Linked DNA regions of Homo sapiens: all the other regions are reported to be linked to region 3. The links are microRNA targets in miRTarBase. Many come from high-throughput screens and were not tested one by one. Region 3 holds a microRNA gene; each other region holds the end of a gene's coding sequence. Distances are from middle to middle.

The links. The annotated mature microRNA hsa-miR-590-5p reads GAGCUUAUUCAUAAAAGUGCAG and lies in region 3 at 2,330-2,351, opposite strand. An mRNA with a match to its seed (bases 2 to 7 or 8) in the 3' UTR can be bound and repressed. Matches are read on the target gene's strand: a 7mer-m8 pairs with bases 2 to 8, a 7mer-A1 pairs with bases 2 to 7 and ends in A, and an 8mer does both.
Region 1: miRTarBase lists RECK as a target of hsa-miR-590-5p. Seed matches in the 3' UTR shown: 8mer at 1,442-1,449.
Region 2: the mRNA of ITGB8 is a reported target of hsa-miR-590-5p. Seed matches in the 3' UTR shown: 7mer-m8 at 3,175-3,181.
Region 4: miRTarBase lists PLEKHA2 as a target of hsa-miR-590-5p. Seed matches in the 3' UTR shown: 7mer-m8 at 2,792-2,798.

The regions. Positions count from the first base shown.
Region 1 is chr9:36,122,742-36,127,906 of GRCh38, forward strand. RECK (reversion inducing cysteine rich protein with kazal motifs) reads left to right here. Exons shown (of 21, transcript NM_021111.3): 21 at 83-1,714. The coding sequence ends at 304. Among named protein-coding and RNA genes, the nearest start is that of GLIPR2, 11 kb to the right of the region's middle.
Region 2 is chr7:20,409,127-20,414,321 of GRCh38, reverse strand. It overlaps ITGB8 (integrin subunit beta 8), which reads right to left. Exons shown (of 14, transcript NM_002214.3): 13 at 4,544-4,707; 14 at 1-4,447. The coding sequence ends at 4,325. Among named protein-coding and RNA genes, the nearest start is that of ITGB8-AS1, 80 kb to the right of the region's middle.
Region 3 is chr7:74,188,369-74,193,563 of GRCh38, reverse strand. It overlaps MIR590 (microRNA 590), which reads right to left and starts at 2,366; the gene lies at 2,270-2,366. It overlaps EIF4H (eukaryotic translation initiation factor 4H), which reads right to left. Exons shown (of 7, transcript NM_022170.2): 3 at 3,827-3,891; 4 at 3,646-3,742; 5 at 3,258-3,317.
Region 4 is chr8:38,969,208-38,974,402 of GRCh38, forward strand. It overlaps PLEKHA2 (pleckstrin homology domain containing A2), which reads left to right. Exons shown (of 12, transcript NM_021623.2): 12 at 214-4,705. The coding sequence ends at 576. HTRA4 (HtrA serine peptidase 4) reads left to right here and starts at 5,021. Exons shown (of 9, transcript NM_153692.4): 1 at 5,021-5,195. The coding sequence starts at 5,057. RefSeq lists a silencer at 5,188-5,195.

The DNA of each region.
Region 1 (5,165 bases), not on the chromosome of region 3:
AGGATATACGTGGAATTTGTCTGGCTTGATGTTGAAAACGTTCTGTGGTTTTATATTAAGGGAACCTTGTTTCTCCTCACAGATTGAAGCCTGCAATAAAGAAGCAGAGAAGATTGAGTCCCTTATCAACTCTGACAGCCCGACTTTGGCGTCCCATGTCCCTCTCTCTGCCCTCATCATTTCCCAGGTACAGGTCTCCAGCAGTGTGCCATCGGCCGGTGTCAGGGCCAGGCCTTCTTGCCACTCCCTCCTCCTTCCCCTCAGCTTGGGCCTTGCCTTGCACTTGCTCTGGACATATAACTGACTGCCCACGGAAAGTGCAGAATGCTCCTCCACCTCACTCTCCTGCCTTGAAAAAGACATTCAGGACTGCTGGTTTGTAGTTGAATATTGGCCAAGGAAAGGCACATGTCACCTCTATTCGCCACACAGTATTTTTTTTTTTAATCCGCCAATATTAGTAGGATTTTTGTTTTGTTTTTACAAATGTTAAAATGTGTTGTTCCAAATACTAATGAAAACAGAATGTCTCTTCCTGGTAGACCACTGCCATATGATTTACATTTCCTCACCATAAGGGTCCCCCACTCTAAAGCAAATTTATCGCTGGGAAATGAGATGACCACTTTTTAGAAAGATAATTCACTGTACTATCAGGTTCACAAACTTCATTTCAGAGTTCTTTTTGAAGTATTTAAGGTTCCCGTTGCATTTGTTTTGTTTACAGATAATTACCTACTCTGGCTAGAAGCTAGGGGTCCCAGTGAAGAGCCACTGCCATTAAAGAATATGAAACATAGATAAAACATCTTTGAAATTATGTAAATTATGTAAATTATCAGGCAAATTTGCATTAAATTACAGAAATTTAATTCAGAACCCCAACTACTGTGTTATGCAAAAGCAAGCTGATTAAATGACACTCATATAATTATATGTTGTAAGCAACAGGCTCACTGGTCACGGATTTGTGTCTGTGACTTTTGTGAAAGGGAGAAGTGACATTGCATCAAAGCATCTTGCATTATGCAATTTTTATATTAACCAGATATATATTCATCGGTATTCATCCAAGTTAAATGTAGAGTTTTTAAACATCAATCTTTAAACCAATTGCTGCTACTTATATAATTGCCAAAAAGTGAAATAATGTGTAGTTCATGTAAATAATACATTATATTTCTATTTTATTATGAAGAAGGTGAATAGCCATATTTGTAAAATGACAATCATGTGTGTTAACCCAGTGCTTTCCATTCGTGAAAACACATTTGCTTTTTGTGATATGCACAATGTAGATAAGTGTTCTGTCTGACTTTCTTTTTTGATATAGAAGTATAAAGAATTGTGGTTTATATATTTAAAAGTGTCAAGCTGAGTATTAAAATGTATGCATGTTGTCTAAGAAATTGAATACTTTGAATGTGTTTCACAGTTTGAAATAAGCTATTTGATGTAATACTTCTTGTGTGTATGCACATGAACTTAGATTTTACATGAAGTATTTTTTCAGTATTATATGTACCCTCTGAAATACATAGGGATATGCGTATTATACCAAAATGTTGCTGAAAAATGGGCACTTAAAGCTTTCAGAATATGTCAGTGCTGATGTAGCATGCTTGTTGCAATTGCCTTTTTTCTGTATAAATGTCTTTAATGCAATATACTGGAAAGCTTTTCTATTTTAATAAAAATAATTTTTATATGATCATGCATGCTTCTAAGCAATGTTGACATTCAAAAAGGAAACCACTGATCACCCTTAGGTGAGCTGTGTCCTTTGCTCGGGGATAAGAAGTCATGGAAATTAGCCGGGTATGGTGGCACATGTCTGTGGTCCCATCTACTTGGGAGGCTGAGGCTGGAGAATCGCTTGAACCTGGGAGGTGGAGGTTACAGTGAGCTGAGATCACACCACTGTACCCCAACCTGTCTCATACCTGAGACAGAGTGAGACCCTGTCTCAAAAAAAAAAAAAAGAAGTCATGGAGTGCTATTATCCCAAGCCAAGGGCCCTGGGAGAACAGGCCAGCTAGGACACAGTTGGTCAGACCAGAGGGCAGGCAGTGACAGAGAGTCAAATACAAAGACCCCAGCTTTCAGCCTTAAGGACAGAGAGAGCTTCAGGCCTTCCAAGACTGCATACTAGGCAGTTCTCCCCACTGTGCTGGTCCTGATGTTCCAGTTCCAGGGTACACCTGGGGCAGGGAGACCATGGGAATATGGAGATGGAGGGCTGCTGATGGGACCAGAGAAGTGGTACCAATCAGCTTAGGCTAAGTCCCCAAAACTTCAGTGGCTTACAACAGAGGCTTCTATTTTGTTCCCTTCACATGTCCATTGTGGGTCAGCTGCCACACCTGATACTATCTTCACTCCAGACCCATTCCAGCGTCCTCACAAAGGGCAGAAAAGAGACATAGAGGACCACAAGCTGGCCCTGAATTCTCTGCTTGGAAGTGATGCTGTCATTTCTTTCTACGTTTTACTAACCAAAGCAAGTCACATGGCCACTCCAGAGTTCAAAGGGTGGGGACATACAGTCCTCCCACGGTGTTTTGTGTGTGTTGGGGGAGGGACAGTAAGTATTTTGAATAACACTGTCTACCATAGACATCTTTTCTCATCAGGCTAGGACAATAGCCAGGACTGACAAGATTTTTTATTAGAGAAGTAGATGTTTCCAGCCTGGTCAACATAGCAAGAACCCATCTCAAAGAAAATGCAAGGCGTTTAATAGGACAGGTTGGAGAAGGTGATCAAATGGTACAGGCAACCTGCCATGGGAGGTGTGAGTTGGGGGAGGGAGCATCTAACAAGGGGGAAGACGCAAGCCCTCGAAAAGAGGGTTGGTTTGCACCAGGCCTGGAAGAAACCAGGAGACTTTGCCAGATGGCTTTGAGAAAGGCATTCTAAGTAGGAGGTACAGCTTGAGCAAAGGTGCAGAAACGACAGAGTCCAGGTCCGTTCCAGGGGTAGAACAGCAGGGCTGACATGTTGTGAGGGGCGTGGTGTGGGGAAGTATAAGGCAGATCCGATGTGCCCAGCTTGAATGCCAGGCCACAGTGGCATCCTAAGCCTCTGCCCTTGCCCTTCCAGCTACACTGACCAGCCTGGATAGCTCTAGCCTGCAAAGGATTGTGTGCCCCAAACTTCAGTGCCACGAGACCTTCAAGACCATCCACTGATCTTGTTACTAGGCAGTGCTTCCCTCTGTCCTGTGAGCACCCTGGACTCTCCTGAGGAAATAATAACTGAGCAGGCTGGGGGCCAGGGTTCCCTTAGGCCTGGTCCCCACCCTTAGAGTTCAGCCAGGGTCTCTTTCAGCTCCACTGTGGGAGGAAACTTAAACCCACCAGGAACACTGATCGTCACTGAAGAAACTGCACTTTCCTTCGTTTGATTCAATGCTTCTCTTTCAGCCTTGGGCTGATGGGAGTCAGGCCCACACACTCCCACAGAGGGTGCTCTAATTCTCAGAGGGACAGGAGGCCCCGCTGCAGGGGCCTTTCCTTCCCTGCCTCCCAGCTGCAGAAGAGGCTTGAGTTGTGCACTTTGCAAGCTGAGAGAAAGTGAAGGCAGAGGCGTCATTCCCAGGGATGAGCCAGTCCTTCCAGCAGTCCAGCAATCTTGGGGCTGGAGGGCAGATTTCCACGGTGCACACAGAGAGAAACCAAGAGTACAGGGACCAAGCTGTGGTTACACAGGGAGTCAGGGTGAAGCCACGGCCAGAGGCCAGGTCCAGGCTTTCCCTGGCACAAGGCAGCCAGGCAGGATTTGTACTTCTCAGAAATGGAACTGGCCATAAAGGAGGTTGCCATGAAGGTAGATGCCAGAAGGTGAGCAGAGTGAAACAGTTCCAAGGCCAGGTGAGCCTGGGTGGGTCTGAGCAAACAGGTTCAAGGAGCATCAGGAATCATAAAAAGTAACTGACACAGTTCGCCAGCTCACTTTCTAGGGCAGTTTAGGGAGTGCTTTTCACCATGTTGTCTCCCGGCCCAAAGCAAAACGCCTCACACAGAGAGCAAATGCCAAGTCTAAGGTTGAGTTTCATTCTAGAGCCCAGCCTCAGGGCATTAGGCTGATGGTGGAGAGGGTAGGGAAGGAAGCCTCACAGGGTGAACACTCTGTCCCCTGGCTCCACCCACTTTTCCATTATTCCAAAATGAAGTTCACTGTATTGTTTTTTCCTTGTAAAAGTTACGTGTGCACCTTCCCCCAAGTACTTGGAAATATAAATAAAGGAAAAAAAATCCCATACCTTCCTCTCCCTGCCTCTACAAATAAGTGCAGAATCCTTCTAGAGCCTTCTCTGTACATATCTATCTCTCTCTGTAATCAGGGCAAGGTACCTCCTCTGTCTGCAATGGGGAGGAGGTGGTTACCTCACTGCCCTGTGCGGGGAAATTGAGGGAAACGGTTTCATATTTGGGATGTTGTCTACTGGGCGGTACATCCTTGCCTAAAGGTTCATAGGTGGAAGCCCTATCTTGGCCAACACCCACCAGGTAATCAGGGGGTGGGTCTTTTCCTAAAGACCACCTCCTCTGTCTTCTCCAGACCAATCTCCCACTGAACTCTACTGCAAATGCAACCAGTTGCTTTGCCAAACAGAAGTGTAACCACTTAGGCAGGGCGCGATGGCTCATGCCTGTAATCCCAGCACTTTGGGAGGCTGAGGCAGGCAGATCACTTGAGCTCAGGGGTTCGAGACAAGCCTAGGCACCATGGCGAAACCCCATCTCTACAAAAAATACAAAGGCATGGTGGCATGTCCCTGTGGTCCTAGCTACTTGGGAGGCCGAGGTGGGAGAATGGTTTGAGCCAGGGTGGTTGAGGCTGCAGTGAGCCAAGATCATGCCACTGCACTCCCGCCTGGGCAACTGAGTGAGACCCTGTCTCATCCAAAAAAAAAAAAAAAAAAAAGAAGAAGAAGAAGGCTAACCATTTATGTTGGTCAGGGTCCTAGCAGGAAAACGAATGGTCCACCCAAATTAGGATTAATTGGAGGAAAGTTTAATAAAGGGGCTATTTATAAAGGTGTGGGCAGGATGTAGGGAAACCACAAGGCATAGTACAACACGCCAGGCCTCAAAGTGGAGCTGTTAGCACCTCTAACCCCTAAGCCTAACGGAGAAGCCATTGCTTCTCTCCCTTGGGTC
Region 2 (5,195 bases), 54 Mb from region 3:
GTAAACTCAAGATATGCGGGATCTGAGCTGATAATCAGTTAGGCTCCATGTTGAGTTGTGCGTGACTCAGTTGTCCTTAAATTTCGCCTTCATATTTTGTCATAAATGGGCTCTCAAATCTTTATAAGAAAACAAAATTTGCCTAGATGCATAAACATTTAGGTAAAGTTGGATTAGTGTAATATTTATTCAAGCATAATTTTAAACACTGCATCTGAAGTGCCAACAGTTGCAAGAAATGTCACAATTTCAGAGATGTTAAATTGAAAAAGTGATGTCTTGGAATCAATGAAATATAAATATGGATATGTATAATCAGTTATACATAAAAATTTGCTATAGAGGAATTATAAAAGAAAAGGAAAATTATTTGAAAGAATGTTAGCTATATCTCAGTGGTCTGCATTGCATAAAATGGAGTTCTTGAGGTCAATATAAATAAGGATAGTTGTAAATTAAATATTGAGTCAACATAACAGAATGCAATCTGCACATGATTGAGCTCCCATGTAACTATATTTCACTTGATACTTTTATGAAAACATATATATTCCAAATCCTTCAAAATGAAAAGAAGCTCAAACAGTTGTGAAAATTTAGAATTCTTAGATTTTAATGGGTCTGTCTTTGTTCAGGGGCAAAGACTCAAATGAGCTTTAAGATCAATTAAAGATGTCTGGAAATGAAGAACTTCATTATACCATTAAATTCAGTTATTTTTCACTATTAGGCTTATTAAGCTTGAAGCTTTAGGAAATCTCTTGGGAAGAGTGAGTGGAAAAAACAGGAGTAAGAAAAGGAAGAAAAAGCCTTTGAGTCTAATCTACTCTACCAGGTTCCAGGAAGAATATAATTCTACAGAGAAAATTCTTCATAATCTATCATAATATATTTCAGTGTCTGATGGCTGACTCTTGTCTTGCATAAAGATATCTTCAGTGGATATTAAGTAAATATTAAAAATATATTTCAGATTCATTCTTTGAAGGATTGCATCTCATGCATCCACAAATTTTAATGTTGAGTTTTGGAAAATTGCCTCCAGAGATATCTACTGTGTTTAATCTTAGATTTTTTTTTTATTTTAATAAACCAAAGATAAACTGAACATTTAAGACATAATCAGATTTTTAGTGAATTTTTAAGTCCTCCAGAAAAGTCTATGACTTAATAAATATTAGCAAGTTTCCAAAAATATAACAAATGTTTATAAATACGTGTGCACTGCAGTGCAATGGTGTCCCCAGAGAAATAAAATGCATAACAAAGCAAATGTTATGTTGTAGTGTATGTATGGCACATTTATAAATCATTACATACTTTAGGGCACAAAAATGCTGCAGTACTAAAAGTGTTGTTCAAGTTCTCAATTCTGTTAACAATTTAAAATTTCATTAATTGTGTTTAATATCAATGAATCTCAAAAGGCTCCTGTGGCCATATTAGTTGAAAATAGACTCTATTTGCATACATTATTTAACCTAAGAGTACCCTGTGTTCCCTTACCATTTAATTAATTCTAACTAGTCAAATATTAATTCTCATCTCACAAATCATTACACAGGAAGATATCAATTATTCAAGTAAAATACAAGCCCTACAATCTTTAAAAATTAGCTTTTTAAGTAAAAACAAAAAAGATAAGCACAAGACTTTGCAAGCATAACCACAATCATCGTCTAACACTGAGTTGCCTACAAGGAAGTTTGTCCCTTCCTATGGTAACAGCCTTGGTCCACTATAAAGTTAGTGCAAACAAGTGAGGGTATAAAAAAAATATAAACTCTGGATTTTTAAGGATTTCATTTTGTTATACTCTTTTTGGATAATTCATTCCATACGGAAATTTGTTTATTGTTCATAAATATCATAATGTTCATTTCAAAAATTGTCATCATCTTAATGGCTATCTTACACTTTTTTCTTTTGGAGGGTTGTCAGGCATCCATCCATTTTCCTTTTTAAGAAGAACGTTATGTGTATTAGGCTACTAAACCCAATTTTTACATTATTTTTAGTGATCAAAGGTTTCTTATACAAGTGACTCACAGTACTGAATTATGTCAATCTCTCATTTGAGGAAGGAAATGCAGTTCAAGTTAGCATTGAAAGTGCTTGGCTGTAGAGGACATCTAACAGAGCTGCTGTGTTTATTGGCTCCAGAACAACTTATTATAGGTTTTTCAGTTCTCTTTAGGGTAGAATATGAGATGGGGTTAGTCTTCATCAAAATGCAGTATCTAGTACTTTAACTCAAGTGCTGGAAGACAGCAAATCTTGGAAGTTTATTATAAAAAAAAAGATATTTCGGATAGATTCCTTTGTTGTCATGGGCAAAACTGTATATCCACACAGGACTGTTAGACTCCTAGCCAATAAAATCAGACTAAGTCCATAGGGATAAGGTAAGTGTAAATAAATTTCCATTGGGGAAGACAGGGCTCATGGCCCGTGTATCAAGGTCTCAAGCTGAGCACTGGAGAACTCCAGGGAACACTGTTCATACAGGCTATGGTGCGAAGGAATTCCCCTGTAGGTATGCCATACTTCAGTCTCTTAAGAAGCTGATTAGCATGAAAGACTGGAAGCTGATTATGGACAATTCAGTTTGAATTATTCCTTTCTATTTTGCTTTGAACTTTCCTCATACACTTAAGACATGAGTAAATCACATTGAAAAACATTTGCCAATTGAATATTTTAAAGATTCAAGAGGTAGCATGATATTGTGCAATGAACACTGGCCTGACAATGAGAAGATAAAAACTCCTTTCCAATGTGGCCACTTTATCACTTGAGTGTTTTCTGAGAAATCGTTTAAGTTTTCTGAGGCTCAGTTCCCTAACTCACTAAAAAGGAGAATTAGCAGCCTGGCATGGTGGCTCATGCCTGTAATCCCAACACTCTGGGAGGCCGAGGAGGGTAGATCACCTGAGGTCAGGAGTTTGAGATCAACCTGTCCAACATGGCAAAACCCCGTCTCTACTAAAAATACAAAAATTAGCTGGGCACGGTGGTGGATGCCTGTAATCCCAGCTACTCAGGAGGCTGAGGCAGGAGAACTGCTTGAACCCGGGAGGCAGAGGTTGCAGTGAACCCTAATTGCGCCATTGCACTTCAGCCTGGGTGACAAGAGTGAAACTCCGTCTCAAAAAAAAAAAAAAAAAAAAAAAAAGCTTATTTCTAAGATATCATCTATTCTCCAATTTTGTACTTTTATGAATTCTGGCAAGAAGGGTTGGAGTGATTCTGGGAAAGAACATCCTTAGGCTGCCTTGAAGGGAGAAGATAATATAGCTTTTCATTTAAAAAATGCTGATATCTACTTGCAATCAAAATCTAAGAAAACATTCAAAATGTGGTACTTTGCTTGAGGCAGAATTTCTAACTATCTTGTGAATTAATGATAAGATAAATGAAATGGCCAAACAATCCCTTCAGTTTACCAGGTAAGAGGATACAAAACTCCACACTTGTGCACAATGAAGCTATTCAGGTTTTGATGATACTTTACAGTGTCCCCTATTAACATTCAGCTTTTAAAACTAGTATTCTGATAAAGTGACATTGTATTATTAGTTTTTTATGGCAGTAGTAACTTAGCACTTAATTAATCCAGTCATCTGTGACATACATAAACTTATCCTGTAAAAAAGAAAACAAAACATAAAGGCAAAGAGGAGAGAATGCTGGAATTAGTATCCATCTTGCAAAAATAAGCAAACCATAAACACACATGCATAAAACTACACACTTTAAAAAGCAATAATCTTTTAAGATTAAGGTTGTATCTGTTCACCTCTTGAAAGAGTGAAACACGAATCATTTATTCATCTAGCTGTTCTTGTCTATTCAACCACCAACTGTTGAAGTGTTTGGCAACCTTAGAATATACTTGCCAGATTATTTTTTTCCTCACATGTCCAGTGCAGGGATTACTGTACCCTTGTAGTGACACAATGCTAAACTCTCTCACAGCATTGTTCTCTCTGGGAAGCGTAGGGATAACAGGTACCTGTAAAGTGTAATCAGTGCTCTTCAGAGGATCTACATTCTATGCTGATCTAAATAAGTTATATATTACAGTAAAGTGCTACAACGACACTAGTCTCAAACAGTAGTAAGACACATTTTTCTCTGAAAAAGTCAGCAGCTATGTGAGTCACATCATGATGAGGATACTTGTCAGTCTTCGTTCGAGTGTACAACCAGCAACTGGCATGACCGTGAGCAATTTGTCTCCTCCTGTGACTTTTAAAATTATAATCTTTAGGAGCAATTATTAACAATTCCAGTTTCCCATTAAGTGTTTAAAAATCTTTTTTTAGAAGTTGCACCTGAAAGTTTCATGAGCATTTAATTTGCTGATATCCATTTTTATTTCTTCAGGCTTCTCACGTCGGTAGGTGACTGCTCTTGTGCAAACACTTTGCAGAATCAACTTATCCTTAATAGAGAAGAAATATTATTATTAACTAAGGGCCTAAATATTGTAACTAGGCAATAACATACTGTTAGCAGTTCTTTTTTAGAATTCACTGACCTTTTTTGAGGCTGACACTCTGTAATCTGATGAGGACTTAATTTTATTACTATTCCATTGTAGTATCACCTGTCTAATGATCAGGACTTTAAGCAACCCAATCAAGAATGTAACTATGAAAATGATGAAAAATATTCTCAAGTAGCTTGGGCTGGAGAAACATTCTGTAATGAAGCAAACAAATAAATGGATTAAAAATTGGAATAAGTAAATCAAAGAGTCTATCAAGTAAATAATGTTCACACTTCAATTAATAGTGCCAAAGATATTTGCAAATCTCCATTTTCAAATCGGGATTGAAATTACCTTTGATTCAAAACAAAAAGCTCTCTAATTTTTCTTGCGCGTTTACTATGAAAATATTTTCAATAGAAAACCCTCCTTTGGGAAATAGCCATGATTAAGGTATTCAATCACATTATTCCATTGCAGCTTGATTCTTTAATTGTATTAACTGGAATATGTCCATGTCCCATAACCAAGCATAATTTGATCCAAGACAGAAAGAGGACTAGTTTTTGTGGTACGTACTGTTGATCACTAAATGGAAAAGAGGATTTTAAAAAATTATTGAGCAGTTCTGGGCCTTAGGATATGTTTCTCTTGTTATGCTTGGTCTTCATTTGTTCCATGCCAGTAATGGAAAATAAAG
Region 3 (5,195 bases):
TGGTTGCGCACTCAGGGGGTGCCACTGCTACTCTCTGCGAGAGTGGTGCCAAGGCTCCAAGCTTTCAGGGAGCTTGTCTTTGAGAAGAACCCCCAGAGCCCGCAGTATGCACTATACAGTCATCCTCATTATCCACAGATCCCATATTTGCAAATCCACCCAGTCGCTAAAATTCATGTGTAATCCCAAGCTAGATACCAGCAGCATTTCTCCAGTCAGTCCTGGACCTGCACAGATGCGACGATCCCAGCTGAGGCAGAAAACGATAATGCTCTGCCTGTTTCAGTTATTAGCTGTCAAGTCTTTTCACGATGAGTGTCGGGTGTTTTGCCCTTTGGGCTTTTTCTGGTGACATCGCTGTCTGAAGTGGCCCCAGGTGCAGTGTGAAGTGCTGTCTGCTGTTCTTAAGTGCAGGCTGGCTGTCAGGTGTCTTACAGACAAAACCGGTGTGGGATGAGCTTTCTAACAGGCTGAAATGATGGCACCACAGACTACTTACTACAGCTGGCCCTGAGTTCAATGTTAACACTATTAAATGAATCAACACTAACATTAAATGAGGCGTCTTTAAAATCAAGGTCACATAGGCTGGGTGTGGTGGCTCACGCCTGTAATCCCAGCACTCTGGGAGGCAGAGGTGGGCAGATCACCTGAGGCTGGGAGTTCGAGACCAGCCTGACCAACACGGAGAGACCCCGTCTCTACTAAAAATATAAAAATTAGCTGGGTGTGGTGGTGTGCGCCTGTAATCCCAGCTACTTGGGAGGCTGAGGCAGGAGAATCGCTTGAACCCTGGAGGCGGAGATTGCAGTGAACCGAAATCATGCCACTGCACTCCAGCCTGGGCAACAGAGTGAGCCTCTGTCTCAAAAAAAAAAAAAAGAAAAAAAAAAAAGTCACATAAAGCAATGTTAGGTATGATCAGCTGACGAAAATGTTGTGATCTGTAGCACACAGGAGCAGCACCGCACGGGCTCATTCAGTGTTCTAGCAACTCCACAGAACCACCTCCAATGATAAGCGCTGACTGCATCACCTGTGGTGGGGGCCGATTTCTATTCTTTAAAGGTGGCAAGGGTTTTGGAAACCAAGGGATCTCACACCCAGTTCAGAGACTGAGTTAAATAATAAATTTTAACAAACCAAGTAATGAAAGCAAGTCTGAACAGATTTAGACCAATAAGAGCACTGCTTTAGGGGAAATACACTGGGAGGCATACAGTCGAGTATAAGGTCCTTTACAAAGTATTTTACCCACATTACACAGTTCAGTGAACAAGCCTAGTTAGTATTAAAACATTTAACTTCACGTTTCCCCCAAACTAAACTGTGAAGTGTACCTTTCCACGTGAGTACAAAGTAAATTTACACCCTTTACTATGAGATTAAATGATTTCGACCACCAATGTCTAGCGTGAAACAAATAGCTCACACCACGCTGGTGAAGCAGATGAACAAGGATCTCTCATCAAATCTGTTGGTGGGGGCCGGGCGCGGTGGCTCATGCCTGTAATCCCAGCACTTTGGGAGGCCGAGGCAGGTGGATCACGAGGTCAGGAGATCGAGACCATCCTGGCTAACATGATGAAACCCCGTCTCTGCTAAAAATACAAAAAATTAGCCGGGCGTGGTGGTGGGTGCCTGTAGTCCCAGCTACTTGGGAGGCTGAGGCAGGAGAATGGCATGAACCCAGGAGGCAGAGCTTGCAGTGAGCCGAGATCGCACCACTGCACTCCAGCCTGGGCAACAGAGCAAGACTCCGTCTCAAAAAAAACAACAACAAAAAATCTGTTGGTGGGTTTCTAGGAAGCAAACTATTCATGAGAATCTTCAGAGTTTTCTTTACAAAGCTTAGTTTAACACTGGCTATTTCTGATGATGAAATGTTTTTGCTTTCTTGGTACTTTTCTGTTGCTCTATTTTGTTTTTTACATGAGCAGGTATCATTAAAAAAAATAGCACCATCCTATTAAAAAGTAAAAAAGATCTACTCTCGCAAATAACGTATAAAGTATCAAATTAGCCATTACTCCATCGAGTGAGCCCACATAGGGTTTGAGATGTCACCAAAACACTGCAGTTCCCACCAGAACTGGTGGCGGCCAGGCCATGGCCGTGTTCACTGTGTCTCTGCTTGAGCGCCAGTGGCCAAGCTAAGCCAAGGGTAGAAAGACGTTAGTATGTGGGCAACTTCTATAACACCTGCGAATACCAAACTGGCAGGGGAAAGGCCGTTCCCTGAGCTGCTGGTTGGCTCTAAGAAGACAGCTGCTGCATGTTTCAATCAGAGACTAGCTTATACATAAAATTACAGATTGACTTCACCATACTGCACTTTTATGAATAAGCTCATTTCTGACTGGCTACAGGACTTTTAAGAACTATATTATTCAACAGGTAGTCGTCACCTGTTCAGCCAAAGCTGAGTTTTTAAAAATCTCAGACTCACAAGACAGCGTGCACCAGTCCCTCCCATACTCACCCACTACTTTACACCGGTTTTGTTTTGATGGGGGGAGGGTGCTGACGTTCTATACAGCACAGCATTGACAGCACATCCCAAGTTTGCGGGAAAGAAAACAAATTTGTTTTTCTCTTCCTACCTTTCTGGGTTACAACTGAAGTTTTTATCATGTGCATATATAAAAAATTATACTTTTGTAATTTAAAAACAGAAAGTAAAGATGATAAAAATGCTTAAAATCACCCTGCAGGGCAGAGGCCTGGCGTGTGGACTGATGCTTTGTGCTATACCACCAGCTGCTCTGCCTGGGTTGGCTAAGAAAGAGAACGGCGAAGTGCATCAGGTCCACCATCAAGGGACTGGACCTCCCCACAATCCTCCAAGAAAAAAAAGGGCCATCAGGACTACCTTTCACCATGTAAGAACCCAAACCTCTATCCTATGTTTTCCAGAAGGAACAGTACTTCTCTTGGTGCCATACACAAAACCACAGAGGAGTTTCCCTGGGCTAGAGTCTGAGAAAGACTGCTGAGCGAGCTCAAGGACCCAGGCCCGTACACATCCAAGGAGCTGCAGGCTAACAAAGGTGACCACACAAGGTGCATGGGGCTCAAGTCCTGCCCCCACAGGCTCTAACAGAGGCTTACTTGCATGCCTGGGCACCCTGCAGGAGAGTTGTATTTGTTAAAGGAACTAAATAAGTAGTCCGGCCAGGCGGGCTACTCGTAAGAAACAGAGAACAGCAGCAAGGCTCCTAGGAAAAATTAAGTGGTGATACTTTAAATACTGATACCAGAATTGAAGTCATCCCGGGAATCCCATCCACCTCTAGATTCTCGAGAGCTACCCATTCCTGAGGATACACAAAAAAGATAAAGTTGAGGTCGTGTCATTACCTTGCTGCGCAAACATGGAAAAATTCATTTGGAAGACATACAACTCAAGTGATGGAAGGTTCAATGAAATCATTTTAAGAGCTTTTGCTTCCAACAGAAAACAAAAAACGCCAGGCTTGCAGAAGCATCAGCCATTCTTTCTAGGATTTTACGCAAACTTTTAAGAGCTCACGAGAACCTATCACACCTATGAGATAATCGAGTTCTACTAGGAACGTTCACGAGTTGGAATTGGTAGGCATACTGCAAATCTTTATGATGTTCAGCTTTAGAAGAACCAATCACCTCTGTCATCTGGTCCACCTTTTCTGAATCCAAAGCCACCTTTATCTTGTTTTCTGCCTTCTGCAATGTCCACACGAAGTGACCGATCGCCCAACAGCTAATGATAAAGGGAAAATAGTGTAAGTATTGGCAAAGAAAACAATCTCAACTGCTATGACAGAGAAAACCCGAGGATACTTACTGCACCATCGTATGTCAAGGCTTCCTTAAGGGAATCCACTTCATCGAATTCTACATAGCAGAATCCTGGAAAAGAAAAGAAGACCCCGATTTCCTCAAGTAATTCTGGGTTAAAGATGTGGGAAGATCCTATTCATACTACTTCTCCACGTCACAACTACCATTCTGTTGTCTAGATGATGGCAGACTAGGAGAGCCTTTCAATAGATAGAACCCTGACTGGCATTCCTCCCTCTCAATTCTATTTTATCAGTCAGAAAATGCTAACTGAACATGCACTGAAATAGCAGCTGCGTTTCTAGAAAGCTTTCTTCTTGAATGTTTTAACCATAATATTCAAACCTTTCTCAGGCCATCTGCAGAGCTCTTCTGACTTCTGAATGACTATTTAATCTAAGTGAGGATTAGATTTCGTAGATTTCAAACTTGGTACCTAAAATGCTCTGAAGAAAGAGGCTTAAAGTGCCGATTTAACTTACTACTCAGGTAACTGACATAAAATTTGCTTCACAAAGCTGAAAATATATCCTTGGCAATCAGGGCATTCTTCTCTGAATGTTAATTAAAAGACAGGCAGCCTGGGTCCAAGTACCTGTTACTGACAACCTGTGTCCCTGATGCCAGGGGTCTGACATTGCCCCTTCCTTGCTGTCTGGAGTCTAAATCTAGTTCATTACTCCCCAGATGCTGGCACTACACCCTGCATCCCCTCTCCCCCAGCGTCCTTGCCCTGTGTATAATAACTTAATAATCACACTTCATCTTTGAAGCCCACTAGACCGCAAGTGCTCTAAAGGCCTGAGTCCAAACTTTCCCTGTTTACCAACTGTGTGTTAAGAACATACTGCCTTGGCTGGAGGGATGTCCCCCCAGGTTTCCTCCCTAAGTGGATTCAATGTTGAGAATAATGGAGAAAACTACCCCCAACTTCACAGAAGCAACAGACACCCAATCTCATCTTCTAGAGCTGCTCAAATGAAGATGGTCCTTCATGAGCCAAACTCCAAAGCCTGCAGCGACTGACCCAGCCCAAAGGCTAGGCTCACCCACACACTCCAACCCAAAGTTTAGTTCCTAATGCTTCCTGGAGCTTACTTCACAAGTGTAACTGATATATTTGTTTTCACTGTTTGATTACACACTACATGTGGCTTCAGATTCTGAAGTCAAAAAGAGTAAGAGTGCCACCGACACACAAAACCACCCAGGTCAGCAAGGCCTTCTCGACTGCTGGCACAGCTCCCCGCCCCAAGTTACCCCATACTTGTCACAGATGTGCTTTTGGGTGGATTATGCGGGCCAAACATCCTGGGTCCTAGCATCGTGCACTTACACAGCAGGCACACTTCCTTCAGGAAGCCCTGCAGGCA
Region 4 (5,195 bases), not on the chromosome of region 3:
AGAATTTCTGATATGTCCTGCAAGTTTCACTGCCAGGCTGACGTTGACACATTTGGAGTGAATCCTTTTGACTGTATTTCATTTTTGTAGGCAAGCATCCTTGGACTTATGAGGTGGTGATCCTGGTTGGGTACTCTTTCTGGGACTCTGTGATAAACATTGTCTGAAAAGCCCTAACTTTCTTTTGTCTTTTTCTTCCTTTTATTTTTATAGGAAACGTCCTTTTCTAGATCCATTTCTTTGACCCGACCTGGAAGCTCCAGCCTTTCAAGTGGGCCCAACTCTATCCTGTGCAGGGGGCGGCCACCTTTGGAGGAAAAGAAAGCCCTCTGCAAAGCCCCCTCTGTGGCCTCCTCCTGGCAGCCCTGGACACCTGTCCCCCAGGCTGGGGAGAAGCTGCTTCCACCTGGAGACACTTCAGAGGACTCCTTGTTCACGCCTCGTCCTGGGGAGGGCAGCGCTCCTGGGGTGCTGCCCAGCTCCCGGATAAGGCACAGATCGGAGCCCCAGCACCCCAAGGAGAAGCCGTTTATGTTCAACCTTGATGATGAAAACATACGGACCTCTGATGTGTGATGGAGCACAGTGCCATGGGAGGGAGGGAGGGAGGGAGGACTTGAGAGAAGGAGGCTGTGACTCAGTTTCTCTACCTTGTTGGAGGGTAGTCAGAGGCCTTTATGTCACTCATATTCCTGTGGATGCTCTTTGGGAGGGAGGGGCCCATCCAGCTGGGCTGTGTGTGTGTGTGTGTGTGTGTGTGTGTGTGTGTGTAATATCAACGCAGTGTATTTAATTTGGGGAAGTCACTAGGTTAGAACTGTAGGCATACTCAGTGGAGAGGAAGCTACCTATTCTATTCTAACTATTCTGAGGTCTTCCTGGAGAGGGATTGTTTTAGCAGCTCCTCTCCAGAGGGGGCTGGAAGTCCAGTTTCACCAATGACCAAGTTTTATTTCCTTGTCCTTGTTTTAGTTTTTTCATTTTGTTTTCAGTCCAGGTGCCTCGCAGCTCTTTTGGAATGGGCCAGCATTAGTCTAATTTTAAGCGCTATGTGTTTTGTACCCTTGCAAACTTGCTTTCTCTTTCTTCTTGCTGTTGCCCTTTGAATGAAGCCTTGTGTGCTTGCATGATCAGACCCTGTAATAGGATGAATTTCCATGCACTTAACATGAAGAGATACAAAAAGAATCTAGAGAGAGATATATATTTTTAATGAAATAGAAGCTTGGCATAGAAACATTGATTTAGATGTTATGAGTTGCTGGCCAGAGATTCCTCAGATAAAAGAGCCTAGAAAATTGAGTTTTGAGCGGGCATGGTGGCTCACGCCTGTAATGCCAGTAGTTTGGGAGGCTGAGGCGGGTGGATCACCTGAGGTCAGGAGTTCGAGATCAGCCTGGCCAACATGGTGAAACCCCGCCTCTACTAAAAAATATGCAAAATTAGCCGGGCGTGGTGGTGCAGGCCTGTAATCCCAGCTACTCAGAGGCTGAGGCAGGAGATTCACTTGAACCCAGGAGGTGGAGGTTGCAGTGAGCCAAGATCGCGCCATTGCACTCCAGTCAGGGCAACAAGAGTGAAACTCCGTCTCAAAATATAAAAGAAAATTGAGTGTCCCACCCAAATTTTAGGGCGTACCTCCTTCCATTTGATAAGAAGATGCTATTTCCAGTGTCCCTGGGAGAATTCTTCCATCCAGTTTATATGGTGAATTGCCACCAGCGTTCCCTAAAGGAAGAGAGAACTTAGCTTATTTCTGTCTGTGACTTTTATCAGCTAGATCAGTTAATTGTATTTTTAAATTAAAAATTAGTAACTAGAGGAAGAGACTAAGAGAACTATTTTTACCTGAGTAAATGCTCTCCTCTTCTTGTGTCCAAATCTAATGCAGAGGTGAAAACACTTGATGAGAAAATCCTTTGTGGCTTGAGGGGAATCATGTTTCTTTCAGGACGTGTTGTTTCCCTGAAGTCTATGTCACACTGAGAACTTTTTCTGACTGCACTGCTTTGGAGCTATTCATTTAAATTGAGTTTGGCCTAGTTTTCCTGGTATAAAACAGGAAATCTACATTGTTCCCTCTTTCTCTCCCTTCCATCCCTTCCCCTGCCTTTCCTATACACGCTGGTGTGCTTTTGCCCTCAGAAATTCTTGGTTTGGGAGTTATGTATTTTTGAGTGATCGAGGTTATGACATACTTGGAGCGGCATGATTTCAAGAAGCCATTCCAAATTCTTATAGCTCCTTAGCTCTGGTTTTACTCTCGTATTTTCCCCAAGAAAATTTTTTGGCTATTCAAAGAAAGCACAAAATATGTGATGTGGAACTCATGAAAATAGGGACTTTTGATATCTCTTTAAATATTCCCTGACTCACGGAAAAGATGTCCTCTTTTGGTGTATACATTGTGAAAATCTACCCATTTATCTCTCTCTCTCTCTTTTCTTTTAAATAAATTATCTGATAAGGCCGGCAAGGTGGCTCACGCCTGTAATCCCAGCACTTTGGGAGGCCGAGGCGAGCGGATCACGAGGTCAGGAGATCGAGACCGCGGTGAAACCCCGTCTCTACTAAAAATACGAAAAAAAAATTAGCCGGGCGCAGTGGCAGGCGCCTGTAGTCCCAGCTACTTGGGAGGCTGCGGCAGGAGAATGGTGTGAACCTGGGAGGCGGAGCTTGCAGTGAGCCAAGATCGCGCCACTGCACTCCAGCCTGGGCGACAGAGCAAGACTCCATCTCAAAAAAAAAATTATCTGATAGGTTACTATTGCTAAATTAATTGGCCATTATAATAAGCTGATTTGTTTCTTATTCAGCAAGATCTCTTTTGAGAATGTGACAAATTAAACATACATAGAATCCATATGGTATTATCCTGATAAAGGGAAACGAGGACACTAAGACTGTCAAATGGAAATCTTCTTGTCAATTGGCAAACACTTGGGAATTCCACATTAGAGCATTGCTTGTTTTTAATTTTTTTTTTTTAATTTTTAAAAGACAGGGTCTCACTCTCTTACCCAGGCTAGAGTGCAGTGGTGTGATCATAGTTCATCATAACTTTGAATCTCTGGGCTTAAGCAATCCTCCCATGTTAGCTTCCCAAGTAGCTAGGACTACAGGGTTGTGCTACCACGCCTGGCTAATTTTTAATTTTTTTTTATCTACAGAGCCTGGCTATGTTGCCCAGGCTCTCTCAAACTCCTGGCCCAAGTGATCCTCCTGCCTTGGCCTCCTAAAGTGTTGGGATTACAGGTGTGAGCCACTGCACCTAGCCAGAACATCGTTAATGTAGTTCAATATGAGATAAATTATTATCTTCAATGAAACAAGCTCTAAAAGCATTCCATTCCTAAATTGTATTTCAAACTTCCTATTTTGTTGATATTTCTTAACTTCTGGCCAGTTTTGGACCATAATCTTTTAATGTGAACCAAAGATGGTACGTATTTGACCAAAGCAGTTAGTTTTAAATGTATAAAATTGAACCAAATGGAAAAAATAGGTTGGGGATGCAGTATAGATTAGTGACTAAGTGCATAGGCTCTGGAGTAAATCTGAGTTTTTTTTTTTTTAAAGGAACTAAAAAATGTACTGCATTTTCTTTGTGGAATAAAAGCCTTGCCTGAGTTGTGCTATTTTCATAAGGCTTTTGAAGTGGTCTTGACCCACTGTGTGTAACAGTATTTCAGGTGGTCCTCCCCATGGCTGAATAATGCCATCCATTATTCTTTAATTTTTATTTTTAGAAACAGTGTTTCACTCTGTCACCCAGGCTGGAGTGCAGTGGCCTGATCATGGCTCACTGCAGCCTGGACCTCCTGGGCTCAAGTGATCTTCCTGCCTCACAGCCTCCCAAAGTACTCAGATTATAGGTGTGAGCCACCACGCCTGGCCACCATCTATTACTTTTGAAATCTTCAAAAGACTTGCTTACTCAATGTCAGCTGATGGTTGGTAAAAATAATTTGGCCTTTAGTGTTAAGTGAGACATCATAAGGGTATTGAGGTATACATTATGGAGATTGATGTCAGGTCAGAATATTGGAGTTATACATCTATTTCTGAGTTGAATACTCAGCTCCCACGAGAAAGAAAGTAGTTTTAAGGTCCAGCTTCTTAGTCTACTTGAAGCAAATTTTTTTTCTTTTATATTTCTGAATATAAATATACTCTTATATGGGCTAAAAAGACCCCATGAATAAATAGCAGGTTCAGTAGTTGAGGAGTGGAGTTTAGTAGGTTTGTTTTCAGTATAAATTAGATAACATGTGGAGGTCACAGCATTTTGGAAATTGAGTGTCCCCAAGTGAGCTTTGTTTATAAACTTTCAAAATGTCGGAAGTGGACAGGTTTGTTAAATCTTGTCTGCCAGCACCCTTTTCTTCCTTTGTTCCTTTTCCTCTCTGTGTTATTGCCTGCGGCAGCCAGTCCTTCATACTAGATAGAGTTCAGATAAAGCAAACGTTTGGCAAAAACATACTGTTTGACCTCCTCCCCCTCTGCTTATGAAGGGGTAGCATGATTCTGTGTTTTAAAGCAGTGATGTTTCAGCTGTGAAATGCACTCGCTGTAAGCTCTAGGCTGAGTGCATGGAAACTGTTACGCTTCTCATTTTATGTGATCTCCTAATTGGTATGTAGCAAAAATTTTCTAAAACTGTTTTGTGGCTTGTTTTGTAATAAAACCATGTGAAATACTGAAATATGGTCATGTGTTTTCCTAATACTGACCTTCTGACCATGGGTGGGTGAGCTTTCTTATCAGTCTGCCCTCATTGTCGGTTTTAGGGATTTCAGGAGGTAGGTTCCTGCTCCGGGTAGGGCTAGAGACCTTCCCCTCATTGCCTGGGGGAGAACCTGGCTCCGGGGCGCCGACGGGGGCGGGTGGTAGGGGATGTACGGGTGTGTATATGCAGAGGTATGCCAGGCTCTGCCCCTTAAAGTTTGGGGGCCGGCGGAGGCGGCGCCGTGGCCGGGAGAAAGTGTCTCTCATTTAGGAGGGTTTGCAGGTCCAGAGTAAAGTCACTGAAGAGTGGAAGCGAGGAAGGAACAGGATGATTAGACCTCAGCTGCGGACCGCGGGGCTGGGACGATGCCTCCTGCCGGGGCTGCTGCTGCTCCTGGTGCCCGTCCTCTGGGCCGGGGCTGAAAAGCTACATACCCAGCCCTCCTGCCCCGCGGTCTGCCAGCCCA